2 separate regions of the Homo sapiens genome follow, and region 1 is linked to region 2. Evidence: fine-mapped expression QTL. A gene starts in region 2. The other region holds a variant in brackets. All regions are shown on one strand. Distances are between the middles of the regions.

Region 1 (8,599 bases), 140 kb after region 2:
AGTTTTTACATATGATAACTTTCTGGACAGTTCTTCAGAATTCCACTTGGGATGGGGCTTATTGATAACCTATGTAGTCATTTTGACCTATGGCTCACCTGAGTTGCCAGACTTACTATTTGTTTTGTTTGCTTTTCACTTTAAGTTAAACGTGAAGTTTAACTGAAGTTTAAAATTTTAAGCTTTCTTTTTAAATTTGTCTTTATTTGCTGTTTCCCTAAGGTGTTGTGACAAAATATATCTGTTGTACGAGAACATACATCAAGATGTACCTTTCATTATACCACTATTAAAACGTTTACCTTTTGTAGGAGATACAAACAAGTAAAGATAACCACGCCAAATAATGTTCTTAGTTTATTCATGGAGACTTGGTGGTTTTTAAAGTAAGACTGTTTGTTTAGTCCTTACAACAGTCTATGAAAATATGTATATAAATAAATATATACATATGAAATCGCCTCAGAGTGCATTGCCTGAGAAAAGAGAGATTATGAAGGGAGGTTAGATACCTTATCCCATAGTTTCTCCCAAAGTGGACTTTCTTTTTCTTTTTTCTTTTCTTTTTTTTTTGTTTTTGAGACAGTCTCACTCCGTCACTCAGACTGGAGTGCTGTGGCGCGATTTCCACTCACTGCAACCTCCGCCTCCCGAGTTCAAGTGATTTTCATGCTTCAGCCTTCCCAGTAGCTGGAATTACAGGCATGTGCCACCATGCCCAGCTAATTTTTGTGCTTTTAGTAGGGACGAGGTTTCACCATGTTGGCCAGGCTGGTCTCGAACTCCTGGCCTCAAGTGATCTGCCCACCTTTGCCTCCCAAAGTGCTGGGATTATAGGCATGAGCCACTGCGCCCAGCCCCAAAGTGAACTTTCTAGAACCTTACAACAAATCTCCTAGAACCTTCTCTTTATTTATATATATATATATATATATAATTAAAACCGAGGTTTAGAGAGGTTTCAGAATTTTTTACAAGCTTTTAAGAAAATGTTCTCTCCTCCTCTAGACTGTAAGATCTGTGAAAGCAGGGGATCTCAGGATTTTTGTTTTTTCCTTTTCCTACCAGTATATATACCTAACAGCTATCAACACAGAGCTTGCTTGGCTCATATTAAACCTTCATTAAATGAATGAATGTGGATTATGCAATTGTTGTAGTAAATTACTCTTTGAAACAAGGTGGTGGGAGATTTGTTATAAGGTTCTAGAAAGTTCACCTTGGCAGGGGGAACTAAGGGATAAGATATCTAACTTCCCTTTATAATATCTCTTTTCTCAGGCTGTGTACTCTGTAGGCAATCTCAATTTCTTACATAATTTTGTGAGTTTATAAAATAAATTATTTTTTGCTTAAGCCATCTTGGGATAGTTTTCTGTCACTTGTAGTAAAAGTTATTGAGTAACAATGCTCCTTGCTTGTATTTTGTTCCACTTACTCCAGGTATCTTCCTTGTGGTGTTTTCCCTTCGAATTCATTATCCATAAACATCTTTATAAAACATAGGCGGTTCCTGATGGTAACCCTTTATTGGCTTTCAGCACCTTCAGGACGAAGTCTGGGTTTTTTATCACAGGCCTTTAGAAGTCTGCCTGATCATGATGTGACCCATGCCCACCTCTTTATTCTCCCTTCCATTATTCTTCCATGATATGGGACTTCTTATAGCTCCCCTGCTGCCACTTAGATATTGTTCAGAAGGTGCTGTTGAGCTGTAAGATACATTACATTGAATATTGCCTTTGTGTTGCCCATTCCCTTTGTTAGTATTAAATATAATAGGAAAGATAAAACGCAAGTTTTAAAAACTCAGAAAATGAGTAAATGATAAACAACAGCTGAGATTTTAAAAATTCAACAGATGTCTGTAGGAACAAAGAGGGCTCTACTTGAATTAAAGTGGGTGAGTACAGCTTACAAATGTTCTATGCATTTACCTTAGTTTTAGTATTTCACATTTTTAAAAAATCACACTATTTAATATATTATAAATTTAAAATTTTATACAAAAAATGTAAGCAGCTATTGGATTCGCTGCTTCCTTCCCGTGAGTCCTCCAGTCCAGACATGTCCTCAGAGCTGCCACTTCTGATGTACTCCTTGCAGTGCTTAGCTCCCCACAGTGGAGCTTGGAGGGTGCTGTCTTAACATCTCTCCTTCCATGATAGGGATCTGCCCATTTCAGGGGATTCTTCCTGCTGCCTTCAAACTGAGCCTCATTTTTGGAGGTGGTAGGGATGAAGGAGAGGGGATGGAGGGGTTGTAAGAGCTGAGGAGTGTGAGGACTTGTGATGGAGTTTCAGAGTTGGGGTGAGAAGGGTAGCCCATGAAGAGGGCCAGAAGAGGGACTATAGACAGCATCATAAAGAAATTTAAATTTCTTTATATTTGGTAAAAGTATTTAGTGTTATAAATCATTATGAATGAATGTACTAAAAGAAAGAATATAATAAAAGATCTTACTTTTATTTATCATGAAGGGGAAACAAAGTTGCTTGTGTCCAAAGTAACATTATTGCACAAAAAAAAGTCCTTTGGTATTGAAAAAAATGAGTGGTATACTGGAGTACACCGCCCCACCCCCCACCCCCAATACACACAAAAGGTAGGGGTGTTATATAATTATTAAAACTTTTTTTTTTTTTTTTTTTGGAGACACAGTCTTACTCTGCCTCTCAGGCTGGAGTGCAGTGGTGATTATAGCTCACTGCAGCCTCAACTTTCCAGGCTCAAGCCATCCTCCCACCTTAGCCTCCTGAGTAGCTGGGACTAGGATTATAGGCATGCACCACCATGCCCGGCTAATTTATTATTATTTTTTTTTTATAGAGACAAAGTTTCGCTATGTTGCCCAGTCTGGTCTAAAACCCCTGGGCTCAAGTGATCCTCCTGCCTGGCCCTCCCAAAGTGCTAGGATTACAGGCAGGAGCCACTGAGCCTGACCAAAAATTTTAAGGGATTCCCATAGAGGTTCTTGAAACCTGAGAATACCCATCAACAATATGTTCTGTTACATACAATACACAGTATAGGGAAACCACAAAGATCAAGTTTAGTTATACCTTTCCTCACTTTAAAAATGTCAATTTTTGTGGCTCCGATATGTTATACGCTAGGAAACTATCCCAAGCCACCAATTAGAACTGTGTACAAGTTACATGGGTCTGAGGAGCTTTGGGTAAAGTTCATCATCTTTTACTGACATATTTTGACAATTTGGACACTATCTGTCCACCTTCCTAATGTGTATTGGAAACTAGAGTTGCTAGCTAAGAAAGTTAATAGCTCCTACAAAAATAAGATATCTTATTTTTCAAATTGTATTTGTCTCTGTATTACTCTGTTCTCACGTTGTCATAAAGAACTTTGTTAGATTGGGTATTTTATAAAGAGGTTTAATTGACTCACAGTTCCACAGGCTGTACAGGAGGCATGGCTGGGGAGGCCTCAGGAAACTTATAATCAGGACAAAAGGTGAAGGGGAAGCAAGCATATCTTCACGTGGCAACAGGAGAGAGAGAGAGAGAGAGAGAGAGAGAGAGCATGAGCAC[G/A]CAAAGGGGGAAGTGCTATACACTTTCAAGCAACCAGATCTCATGAGACCTCACTACCATGAGAACAGCAAGGGTGAAATCTGCCCCATGATCCAATCACCTCCCACCAGGTCCCTCCCCGAGTATTGGGGATTACAATTCAACATGAGATTTGGATGGGGACACAGAGCCAAACCATATCAGTTTCCCATCCCACTAAAATGGTAGGAAGTCTGTTTACTAGAATTTTTGCCATTTCCAAATGAATAATCGTTCATTTTCAGATTTATATATTTGGACAAGGGATAAGGTGAATGCCAGCAAGTCATGGGCCATAACCACCTGTGTCTTTTTTTTTCTACTTCTTCTTCTTCTTTTTTGGGACAGAGTCTCACTCGTTTTGCCCAGGCTGGAGTGCAGTGGCGCAGTCTCAGCTGGGATTACAGGTGCACGCCAGCATGCCCAGCTAATTTTGTTTTTGGTTTTTTGGTTTTTTGGTTTTTTTGAGACAGAGTCTTGCTCTGTTGCCCAGGCTGGAGTGCAGTGGCACAATCTTGGCTCACTACAACCTCCGCCTCCTGGGTTCAGGTGATTCTCCTGTCTCAGCCTCCTGAGTAGCTGGGATTACAGGCGCACAACGCCACGCCCAGCTAATTTTTTGCATTTTAGTAGAGATGGGGTTTTACCGTGTTGCCCAGGCTGGTCTTGAACTTCTGAGCTCAGGCAATCCGCCCATCTCGGCCTCCCAAAGTGCTGGGATTACAGGCATGAGCCACTGTGCCCGGCCTAATTTTGTATTTTTAGTAGAGACGGGACTTCACCATGTTGGCCAGGCTGGTCTCGAACTCCTGACCTCAGGTAATCCACCTGTCTTGGCCCCCCAAAGTGCTGGGATTACAGGCGTGAGCCACCGTGCCCGGCCCCACCTGTGTCTTAAGAACATCCTCAACTATTCTTATTTCCTCTCTTTCTCTGACTCTTGCATTTATATTATCATAAATCTTAGCTCTCATACTCAATGAATGTGAAGCAAGAAAACTCTACACAATTCATTTGCACAGATATCATTTTCATTCACATGAGTAATGTCTAAACTAAATGGCAGTCATTAGTCGTAAAATTGTGAGTAAGTCAGGCACAGTGGTTCTCTTTTCTTCCCTCTCCCCTTCTCTCTCCCTCTCCCCATCCCTCCATCAGTCTCTCTGTCTTTCTCTCTGTCTCTCTCTCTTCCTCTTCCTTTCATGGGAAGAGGTGATCTTTCCATCCCAGCTGGCAGGACTAATTCAGGCATGCGTTCTCTTCCTTGTGGACTGTTATAATGGCTTCCTTTTCCCTTCCAATCCATCAAACTCATTCTTGGCTGAGAAATTTTAAATATACAAATCTGATCTAATTCTCTTTAGCTGTCTCAAGCTTCACATCTAGCCACAGTATCAAGTTTTGTTTCTTTAGCATACTATTACAAAGTCCTTTCCTAATCCCAGCCTGCCTTTGTCAGTTTCATGCTTACGCTGTTTGCCCATTTGCTGTAGCTCCAGGGCTGTCTACTATTTACATTTTGAAGCTGCCTAATACTACCACTGCCAGTTCATCTCGAGGAAAACCATTCATTCCCTCACTTGCTCCTCCTGTATTCTTTGATGTATTTTACAACACTTACCACATCGTGTTATATTGGCTTCTTTTACCTTTCTACACCTCCTGCCAAACTCAGAGCAGCAAAAATAGAAGGTACCATGTGTTCTCATTTTAATCCACAGTGCTTTTGAACAATCTCTGATTCATGGTAACCATTAGTAGATGTTTGAGCTTAATCTGAAGACATGTGCCTAAAGTCAAAAAATTCACAATCTAGTAGTGTAGATAGATATCCAACTACTTATAATACTAAGCAGTATATACTAATACTAACTAAAATTGGAAATTTCTTGAAATTATCATCATGAATGTGACTCTTGGATCTCTGGCATTTTACTGGGTGCATAGTTATTCTTTACATGTATAAATGTAAATGACTAAATGAAGGGAAGAAGTCTCAGATGGTCTAGTGGACCTCTACCTCCCATTCTTATAACCCTCTCGCACTCCAAAACCCTTGAAAGATGCAACAGTGCCAGGCCTTCACCAGCAGAGAAATTGCTATGAAAATGCCATGGACAGAGAAAGCAAACCGTGATAGCAATTAAGAGCCCCATACAAAAGTCACGAAGGCACATTCTTCTAATTGGAGGCGTTCTCTAGCATATGCAGTTTTACTGCAAGGTGACTAGCAGCAAGGCTAGTTTTCAAAAATAATTTTGAGGAGTGGCTTATTGTAAGAGATAAGCAATTTTAATTTTCACAGAAACATCAGATAAGTTTAAAACTTTGTTTATAGCATCATGTTTTATTTATTTTTGGTGGAAAAGAAATTTCCCCTCAAGGCATTTGTTTGTAAGTAGAATTCTTTATTCATTTATATCTTGTTTAACTGTACCAAAACTACAATTTTACAGCCATAGTTTCTCGTGAAACCTAAAGCACTCTTGGTTACCCACTAACTTTTAAAAAAAATACACATAAATCAAATTTTATCTATAAAAATATATTCTTAACATTAAAAATTTATCAAATGTTGGGTACAACCTAATTTGCAATTGATGAGTTGATTTTGTTTACTTGTATTGGGGAGCAACTTTGATTTTAGTGCCTTTTTAAAGAATTGCTTTTACATATATTGAATATAGAAGTGTTACCTGAATTCTGTAGGATCATAAATACTGGAATGAGGCCTGGTATAGTGGCTCACACCTGTAATCCCAACACTTTGGGAGGCCAAGGTGGGTGGATCACCTGAGGTCAGGAGTTCGAGACCAGCCTAGCCAATGTGGCGAAACCCAGTCTCTACTAAAAATACAAAAATTAGCCAGGTGTGGTGGTGCATGCCTGTAATCCCAGCTACTCAGGAGCCTGAGGAAGGAGAATCGCTTGAACTCGGGAGGCAGAGGGTTGCACTGAGCTGAGATTGTGCCATTGCACTCCATCCTGGGTGACAGGAAGACTCTGTCTTTAAAAAAAAAAAAATACTGGAATGAAGTTTTCGTCTGAAGAGAGAATATTACGATTACAGGGCACAGGCAAAGCATAGAGCCAGTCTGGCATAAGTGGTTTTTGGTTTTGATTTTTTTTCCTCACGCTAGAAGTTCTTAAAATTAATGTGTGAAGTGGTTCTTGGGCTACTGAATTACCTATTTTCTTGAGTTAACTCATTGGCAGTTAACTTTATAAAAGCAAGATTTTTAAATTCACATGGGGAAAAAACTGCCATCTCTTAATCTGAGCATTAAGTAATGACCTTCACTAACTACTTTATAGTGATTATTAACTTTGTAAATTGCTGATTTTGGTTAGAACTTATATTTAAATTTCTTTATATTTGGTAAAAGTATTTTAGTGTTATAAATCATTATGAATGAATGTACTAAAATAATGTAATAAAAGATCTTACTCCCTTTCTCTTGATTGCCTCATGGTTTTTTATTATATATTTTGATCAACTACATGCTTATTGATCCTGGCTGTATTATCAGCTATTAGATAACACAATTTTAAAGTGCCTGTTGCCCTCTGGACACCGAAGACTCAACATTTATTGCTTGAGCATTGCCTTTGTTTTGAATATGGCTTTGTAAAGACAAAAATCCAGGCTGGGTGCTGTGGCTTATGCCTGTAATCCCAGCACTTTGGGAGGCTGGAGTGGGCGGATCACTTGAGGTCAGGAGTTTGAGACTAGCCTGGCCAAATGGTGAGACCCCCTTCTCTATTAAAAATACAAAAAATTAGCCAGGTGTAGTGGCACACTCCTGTAGTCCCAGCTACTCAGGAGGCTGAGTCAGCAGAATTGCTTGAACCCAGGAGGCAGAGGCTGCAGTGAGCCGAGGTCGTGCCATTACACTCCAGCCTAGGCAGCAAGAGCAAAACTCCATCTCAAAAAAAAAAAAGACAAAAATCTGAGCTCTTCTTTTAGAACAGAGGAGAGTAATACTCTAAGTTATGATCATTTATATGGAGGAAACATATCAGTGTTTTGTTTTTCTCTAGTAGTGCTAAACTTTAAGAATTTTAAAAGAAGCTAAATCAGTAATTATGTATCTAGTTTCCTTCCCTAAGAATTACTTCTGGAATTATTTTGTTATCTTATTTTTAGGTGTTGCAAAGTCAAGTACAGGGGCCATACTAGAAAGGCAAAAGAGAAAACCAGGTTATTGTGAGATGAGGGGGTGATGAGGTCTGGGGTAAAATAGAATGTATATGACTCACTTAAATGTATTTAAATATCTTTAAAACATTGTGCCATCTAAACAGAAATCCTTTGCCACTGTGACTTTGCAATCCCTGGTTTATATTCATCTGGCAATAACAAAAACTATGTTTATATGAAAATTATTTTTATATATAAATATATGATATAATGAACATGTGTCATTATTGTGCTCATCTGCCAGTATATTTGTGTGGGCCACATAGTATTTAAATGGGCTTTAAAAAAAATATATCAGGTGAGGTGAAAACGTAACACTCCCATTTTATTCCTGAATGTTTTCCTCTTGGCTAATCTTAGTCCTTACAGTGATACTGAAAAGTAGAGTTAGAGTGGTAAATGGAGTGAAGGGTAGACATTGTATATCTTCATAAATATGACTTAAAATCTGTCATTGTAGGATATTGAGAAAATTCAGATTTTTCAGCTTTATTAAAATTTGATGACTTTACATTGGGTTCACAAAAATAAAAGAAGACATGTATCTTTTCCAGTTCACTGTGCCATACATTTATATATTTTATCTTTACAGCCTGAGGAAGAACTTGATCCTGAAGAGAGGGACAACTTCCTCCAGCAGCTTTATAAGTTTATGGAAGACAGAGGTATTTTCATGCTCATTATTTTAAAGTAGTCATTTCTTTTTCATGTTTACATTCTAGGTATATGCATTGTTTTTGTTAGTATTGCAGATAAACAGTTTTGGATTTTATTTATTTATTTATTTTGAGGCAGGTTCTTGCTTTGATGCCCAGGCTGGAGTGCAGTG
Region 2 (8,599 bases):
CCCAAACAAAAGAAACATGAAGAATATAATGTCAAGGCACCTGAAAAGACATTCCCACCAGTGCCACAACAGTTACAAATGCCATGGCAACATCAGGAAGTTACCCTATGTAGTCTAAAAGGGGGAGAAACCCTCAGTTCCAGGAATTGCTCAACCCTTTCCCAGAAAATCCATGAATAATCCACCCCTTGTTTAGCATATAATCAAGAAGTAATGATAAGTATAAGCAGTTAAGCAGCTCACGCTGCTGCTCTGCCTATGAGTAGCCATTCTTTTATTCCTTTACTTTCTTAATAAACTTGTTTTCATTTTACTCTATGGACTTGCCCCGAACTATTTCTTGTGCGAGGTCTAAGAACACTTTTGGGGTCTGGATTGAGACCCCTTTCTAGTAACAATAACACTTAACTCATAAAGTTGCTGTGAGGAATAAATGGGATCATATATAGCAAGGAGAGCTAGCAAATAGAACTCAACAAATATTATCTCTAGCTGTATCTATGGGAGTGGAAGAGATTGGCAAAGGAGAGGGTGTACAATAAGAAAAGAGGTTCAAGAGCAGAACCATGGAGAACAACAACATTTAGGTTGTGTACTGGGTTGAATAGTGTCCTCCCCAAAATTCGTGTGAACAGAAATCTTAGAATGTGACTATATTTGGAATTAGATCCTTTGCAAATGTAATCAAGTTAAGATGAAGTCATACTGGGTTAAGATGGACCCTGAGCCAGTAACTGATATCCTCAGAAGAAGAGGGAGGCCGGGCACAGAGGCTCATGCCTGTAATCCCAGCACTTTGGGAGGCCGAGGCGGGCGGGTCACTTGAAGTCAGGAGTCGAGACCAGCCTGGCCAACATGGCAAAATCCCATCTCTACTAAAAATACAAAAAATTAGCCAGGCATGGTGGCAGGTGCCTGTAATCCCAGCTACTTGGGAGGCTGAGGCAGGAGAATTGCTTGAACCTAGGTGGCAGAGGTTGCAGTGAGCTGAGATCGCGCCACTGCACTCCAGCCTGGGCGACAAGAGTGAAACTCCGTCTCAAAAAAAATAAAAATAAAAATAAACAAGAAGAGGGAAATTTGTTCAGCCGAATACAGAAAAAATAAAAAAGAAAACAATTAAGAAAAAAGGAGGGAAATCTGGACACAGAGACACACACAGAAGGAAAGTGATGTGAAGACACAGGGAGGAGTACATAATGTGAAAAATGCAGACACAGCGAAGAAGGCCAAGTGATGACAGAGGCAGAGATTGGAGTTATGTATCTACAAGCAAAGGCACATCAAAGATTGCCAGCAACCACCAGAAGCTAGGAAAAGGCAAGAAAGAAGGCCAGGCACGGTGGCTCATGCCTGTTATCTCAGCACTTTGGGAGGCTTAGGAAGGCGGATCACCGGAGCTCAGTAGTTTAAGACCAGCCTGGGCAACACGGTGAAACCCATCTCTACAAAAGATGTTAAAATTAGCCACGCAAGGTGGCACATGCCTGCAGTCCCAGCTACTTGGGAAGGTGAGGCAGGAGAATTGCTTGAGCCCAGTCTGGGGTTCAGTGAGCCAAGGTTGCACCACTGCACTCCAGCCTGGATGACAGAACGAGACTCTGTTAAAAAAAAAAAAAAAAAAAAAAAAAGCTGGGCGCGGTGTAATCCCAGCACTTCGAGAGGCCAAGGCAGGCAGATCACCTGAGGTTAGGAGTTCGAGACCAGCCTGGCCAACATGGTGAAACCCTATCTTTACTAAAAATCCAAAACAAACAAAAAAAAATAGTTGGGCGTGGTGGCAGGTGCCTGTAATCCCGGCTGCTCCAGAGGCTGAGGCAGAAGAATCACTTGAACCTGGTGGGGCGGAGGCTGCAGTGAGCTGAGATCGAACCTGGGTGACAGAGCGAGACTCCATCTCAAAAAAAGAAAAAAAAAAAAAGACAAGAAAGGATCCTCCTCAAGAGCCTTCAAAGAGGGCATGACCTTGCTCTTGCTGACACCTTGATTTCTGACTTCTCACCTCCAGAAGTGTGAAAGAATAAATTTTTTGTTTCCTTGAACCACCGTTTGTGGTACTTTGTTACGGCAGTCCCTAGCTAACAAATACAGCTGGTGAGCTGTCATGGAAAACATAGAATAGGTAATAACAAACTTCATCATTTCAATAGTTTCAGAAACATAATTTCAAATTGATCCTTACAAATACCTTGTGAAGCAGCAGAACAGTTTACAGATAAGGAAGTGGACGATCAGAGGTATTAGGGACTTGACAGAAAGTGGCAGAAACAGAATCTGAACTCAAGTAAGGGGTCCTATTCAAATAATCTGACTCTATTAAGCAAAAAATTTAATCTCTTCCCACGTTTCTTAAAGTTTTCTTCCCCGTCACAACTCCAACTTCATTCTCCTGTCTCCAGGAATTTGCTTTCAAGGAGGATCATTGATCAGTAATTTGGACTTAAACATGAATTTTACTAATATCACATTCCAAATTTCTGCATTGTTACAGCCTTAGTTTTTGTTATGGAAATAGCTTATCCCCAACTACCCCGCTAACTCTAGTTACCAACCATTAGAGTAGGGCCTTTTTTTTTTTTTTTTTTTTTTTTGAGAGACAGGCTCTCACTCTTGTTGTTGCCCAGGCTGGAGTGCAGCGGCACAATCCCGACTCACTGCCGCTTTAGACTTCTTGGGCTCAAGGGATCCTCCCGCTTCGGCCTCCCAAAGTGCTGGGATTACAGGTGTGATCCTGCGCTCGGACAGTTGGGACATCTTAATACAGTATAACCTCATCTTAACTTGATTACATCTGCCAAGACTCTATTTCCAAATAGGGTCACATTCTGAGGTTCCCAGTGGACAAGAATTTTGGGGGGGGGGGCATCATTCAACCCAGTACACCAGCTAAATGTTGCTAGTCCTCACCGATTTACCCTTGAACCTCTTTTCTTATTGCACAGCCTCTCCTTTGACAGTCTTTTCCACTCCTATGCATAGATACAGTTAGAGCTAATATTTGCAGGAAAAAAATATTTTCACAGAAAGCTGTGAAGTGACAAAGATGTAAACAGTAATGTAAATGTTAAAAGTAGTGGCAAAAACAGCAATTACTTTTGCACCAACCTAATAGGGGCCTTTGCTTCAATGTTTCTTCTATTAAACCATCCCGACCGCTCCTCTATGGACAGATTCAAGATTCACAGACGCTACTCTAGCTGCTTAATTCTGGAGTAAAATAAAAACTTTCAGAAAGACTACTAACTAAAGTATTGTCTGTACGTATTATTCTCTAAAGCATCATTAGCATAGGCTTTGCAATTAGGAAGTCTGTGGGTTTGTTCCTGGCTCTGCCGTGGGACATTGGGAAAGTTAATCTCTCTGAGCGTCGGTCCCCACAGATAAGAAAACACATATTCTTGTTATTTCTTGAGAAGATTAAATATTAGGCAAAACGCCTAGCACAGAATAGGGTCTCAGCATCTTCTGCCCCCCAAGAGCATGAATCAAAGGTTCGGAATTGCGTCGTCTCTCGGCTGCCCCTTGGCAGCCAGGTCCTCAGTGACCTCTTCACAGTGAGCTGAGACCGAACCTCTTCACAGCCGCGCGTGGGTGCGGCTTTGGGGCGTGGTGGGAGGGAAGGATAGGGAGGCCGGCTCCGCCCCCTCAGGGCGACCGGCGCGCCTGATCGCCGCGGCCTCCGCGCCCCCGCACTCGGATTCGCGCCCGCCAGCGCCTCTTTTCCCCTAGTCCTGGCGACGGCAGCACCTGCAAGGGTGGGTCCAACGCGGAATGAGGCACAGCCTGGGACAGCCCGGGCCCGGCGCGCCGCGGCCGCGCGAGGCCCCCGCCGTCGCCGACGCCCGAGCGCCGGAGCCCCGGCCCCGCCCCGCGAGCGCCGAGACTTGTTGGCCGCGGAGACTGCGACCCTCTTCTCTCAGTCTGCCTTACTACCATGCCGCTCTACGAGGGCCTGGGGAGCGGCGGGGAGAAGACGGCGGTCGTGATCGACCTGGGAGAGGCCTTTACCAAGTGAGTGGCCGTGACGCCAGCTGTGTTCGACCCGAGGGGAGGGCGGGTGGCAGAGCCCCAGGCACTGCCTGGGTCCTCATCGCCGACTCGCTGGGCAGCTCCGGGCCTCCCCTTTTCTTCAACCAGCGCCCTTGCAAATAACAGCTCTTATTATTTCCTCCCTGGGCGATGCGAATCCGAGGATCGGGGTCTGACTCCCAGAGAGGCCCAGAAAGCTTCTGTTGAATTGCCCTCGTCGCCGCCCCTTGTCATCACCCCAAACCCAACAAACCCTTTGGGATCATCTGTGTAGGGGATGACAACCGTGACCTAGACCCCGCTTACCCTGGGCTCCTCAGTTGAGGAAGGCAGCCAACCGAATGTAAATGCTCGATGACGAATTTCATCATAAAATATTGAACGGAGTTTATTTTGGTGCTGAAAATGGAAAGATGTTTAAGACAGGGCTATCGCTGCTCAAGAATTAGGGAGACTGGGCACATTAAGAGGTGAAACCCTATAGATAAGATTCTGGAAATCCTTTGTTGGCTCCCCTAAACTCGAAGGTTAGATTTGACATGTTTTAAACAAACCAACTTGTAAACAATAGAGAGGAGGTTCTCAACCTTTCGGATGGCATAGATCTCTTTAATGGCTGGATGAAAACCACAAATGCACAAATCTTAAGGTACTTATACACAGTTTCAGGGAATTGGCAGACAATCAATGTGGTCCTGGGACCCTAGATTAAGAGTCCTTGTGATGGGCTCAACAGAGAGGGAAGTAACAGGCAATTACATCATATATGTATTTATGAAAATGAAACATTTGAAAAATCTTTTTATATCTCTAGGCACTTCCTGACGTGTAGTAGGTATTTAATAACTATTTATTGACTAAGTGGTTAAAAGAGCCTATTTAAAAATTGGACCCCAGGAACTCCAGAATTGGATTAAACATAGTCCTTGGTTAATGACATTCTCTTATTGTTCTATGCGAGGCCCTTCCTTATTTATATTTTCTTATTAAAATTATTTTGAAAGCGTAATAAACAGTTCGAGGCTTCTAGTCAAAGATAATTATTTTGGCTGTACTTGGAAGAAATAAGCAAAAAGCTATATTTGAAAAAGACAGCAGGAGGATGATAAGATAAATGTATGAAGTAAAAAAAAGGAATTGAAGTCTAATGGCTTGCATTCTGAGATGTTTGAGGAGCACTGATGCAAGTAAACATGGAGACGGGAATAGGAGGAGATGGAGAGAATTATTTGGGAATACGAGGAGAGCAGTATCAAAAACTAGACAGGACAAGAAGACAGGATGTTAAGACTAAACTAGTATGATGATCATTTTTAGCAACGTTTTTAGCAAATTTTTGTTTTACTAACATGAAACAAAAATGGAAATACCTAAATACTCAAGAAAAGAGCATCGTTTTTAAAATAATGAAATATGTGGTTTTAAAAATAATACTGTAATTCCAGCAGTTTGGAAAGCTGAGGCGGGCTGACCACTTGAGCCCAGTAGTTCAAGACCAGCCTGGGCAACATGGGGAAACCCAGCTCTACACAAAATACAAAATTTAGCCGGCGGTAGTGTCGTGCCCGAAATCCTAGCACTTTGGGAGGCCAAGGGGGGAGGATCGCTTGAGCCTGGGAAGCGGAGGCTGCAGTGATCTGAGTTTGTGCCACTGCACTCCAGCCTGGGCGACAGAGCGAGACCCTGCCTCAAAAAAAAAAAAAAAAAAAGTGATAGCAATGAAGATTATGTTAATATGGGCAGAAGCTTACTGTATGAGTTAATTATGTATGAAGTGTGATTAAAACTATGTCAAATATATATGCATAATCATAAGAAGTAGACTGAAAGTGAATACACCAATATGGAAGCTAACAATATTAGAATGATGGAATTATGAGTGATACAGATGAATTATATGAATGAAGTCACATAATGTAGTACAGATTCAGAGTTGTAGATATGTCTTGCCTAAATTCTGCTAAAATTAACAACTAGGAAAAAAGTTGGCCAGGCGCGGTGGCCCACGCCTGTAATACCAGCACTTTGGGAGGCCGACGCGGGCGGGTCACGAGGTCAGGAGATCGAGACTATCCTGGCTAACACGGTGAAACCTCGTCTCTACTAAAAAAAAAAAAAAAAATTAGCCCTGCGTGGTGGCCGGCACCTGTAGTCCCAGCTACTCAGGAGCCTGAGGCAGGAGAATGGCGTGAACCCGGGAGGCGGAGCTTGCAGTGAGCCGAGATCGCGCCACTGCACTCCAGCCTGGGTGACAGAGCCAGACTCCATCTCAAAAAAAAAAAAGTAAATGCTGCCCTAAAATAATACATTTGTTTTTTTCAGCATCACGAATTTCATAGAATTTTTTTCTGTTAATACACAAGCATTAATAAATAGTATTATTAGTTTTGTGGAGTGATTTTTTTTGATCCCTTAAAATACATCAGGTATTTTCAAATGTTATTGTGGCCATTGTTTTGAAACAAATACAGAGAAAATTAGTTTCTGTGACAAATATTTAAAAGAATACTATAAGTTGTTTCAATTTTCCATTTATTTGCAGGTGTGGATTTGCTGGAGAAACTGGTCCAAGATGTATAATTCCTAGTGTGATAAAAAGAGCTGGGATGCCTAAGGTATTTAAAAAAAAATATTAGCAAAATAAATGCCATACTATAAAATGTTTTAAAATATGACTTCAAGTAAGATTGATTAAAACAGTACTAAAGGCCAGCCGTGGTGGCTCACGCCTGTAATCCCAACACTTTGGGTGGCTGAGGCGGGTGGATCACCTGAGATCAGGAGTTTGAGACCAGCCTGGACAACATGGTGAAACCCTGTCTCAACTAAAAATACAAAAATTAGCCGGGAGTGGTGGCAGGCACCTCTAATCCCAGCTCCTCAGGGGGCCGAGGCAGGAGAATTGCTTGAACCCGGGAGGCGGAGGTTGCAGTGAGCCAAAATCAAGCCATCGCACTCCAGCCTGGGGGGCAAGAGCAAGACTTCGTCTCAAAAAAAAAAAAAAAAAAAGAAACAAGAAACAGTACTAAATATATACTTTGTGGCTATATTTCCAAGGAAAAGTTTTTCTTTTTAAATCAACTTTATCAAGGTCTAATTTTGCACACCATAAGTATATCATGTTGTACAAGTACCACCACAATCCAGTTTTAGAATGTTTTCATCACCCCAGTAAAATCCCTAATACCCGTTTACAATTAATCCTCATTCCTATCCTCAGCCCATTAGGGTGTACCTTCTGTTTCTATAGATTTGTCTTTTCTGTACATTTTATGTAAATGGAATCATATATCAAGAGAAAAATTTTAACTTCAGTAAAATACTTTTATAAGTCTTATAACCACTGAATTATTTTATTATTTATAATATATCAGATATTTATTCCCTTATTTACAGTTTCAAAACCCAGAGAATTTTGAAAACAAACTTTCAAAAAGTTTCTTGCCACAGCTAATTTGGCAGATTAGAAATTACAACCAGTAGAAAGAATGATTTTGCATGTTATAAAATTCACTTGTTAAAAAATGAGATGTAGCTGTTACCACAGTAACATTATATATGCATTCCAGAAAATACCTTTGTTCTGCAAAATGGTACATTTTTAAAAAACAAAACAAAACAGGCTTATGGGAAAAATAAGCTTGAGGTAGTCCATATAAAACCTGTGTAACTTTGTAATCAGAGGACTAGCAAAAACAATAATTGATGCCTCCACAAAATTTAAATAGGATTGGCAGGCAGCTGAGTGTGGCTGGAGGCTGTCTTAGGGAATATTAAAAATAAAATTGTGGGCTGGGCAGATTACACGCCTGTAATCGCAGCACTTTGGGAGGCCGAGGCGGGCAGATCACGAGGTCAGGAGATCGAGACCATCCTGGCTAACACAGTGAAAACCCATCTCTACTAAAAAAAAAAAAAAAAATTAGCCAGGCATGGTGGCAGGCACTGGTATTCCCAGCTACTTGGGAGGCTGAGGCAGGAGAATGGCGTGAACTCGGGAGGCGAAGCTTGCAGTGAGCCGAGATTGCGCCACTGCACTCCAGCCTGGGCGACAGAGCGAGACTCCATCTCAAAAAAATAAAATAAAATAAAATCGTGGAGGTGGTGCGCACCTGTAGTCCCCAGCTACTTGGGAGGCCGAAGTGGGAGGATCACTTGAGCCCAGGAGGTTGAGGCTGCAGTGAGCCAAGATTGCACCACTGCATTCCACCATGGGCGACAGAGTGAGACCCTGTCTCAAAAATAAACAAATAAAAATAAAAGTCATGGATTGAAAATGTTAGCCAGTGGGTTCTGAGTCAGTGCAGATGGTAGCAAGCTCTGAGCCAGTGGGACTGTTATTAAGTAGCAACTAGGAGGAAATGCAACCCAACAGAGTCATGGATCCACTCTGAGGCACGAATTGCTGGTGTAGGGAGTTATTTACACTTTTCTTATGAATAGATCTGAAAGCATATCTACCTGTGTGATAACTGAGTTGATGACTTTCTTTTTCTTGATGAAAGTTATACTTCCATTATAATTATAGCTTGTCTTGCCTAATATTAACTAATACAACTATAACATTTTT

Direction of the effects. Positions count from the first base shown, and alleles are read on the strand shown. Sizes are in standard deviations (SD) of each study's normalised expression.
For the expression in cerebellar hemisphere of the gene that starts at base 3,866 in region 2, allele A in region 1 goes with a lower level than allele G (moderate effect, 0.57 SD a copy in GTEx).

What was found.
Region 1: its variant is fine-mapped to the expression of ACTR10 in cerebellar hemisphere (GTEx, PIP 0.93).

The regions. Positions count from the first base shown.
Region 1 is chr14:58,336,333-58,344,931 of GRCh38, forward strand. It overlaps ARID4A (AT-rich interaction domain 4A), which reads left to right. Exons shown (of 24, transcript NM_002892.4): 12 at 8,363-8,435. Among named protein-coding and RNA genes, the nearest start is that of ARID4A, 42 kb to the left of the region's middle. The variant G/A (reference allele first, on the strand shown) is at 3,552.
Region 2 is chr14:58,196,284-58,204,882 of GRCh38, forward strand. It overlaps ACTR10 (actin related protein 10), which reads left to right and starts at 3,866. Exons shown (of 13, transcript NM_018477.3): 1 at 3,866-4,011; 2 at 6,572-6,644. The coding sequence starts at 3,935. RefSeq lists enhancers at 3,309-3,438, 4,059-4,248 and a silencer at 3,509-3,898.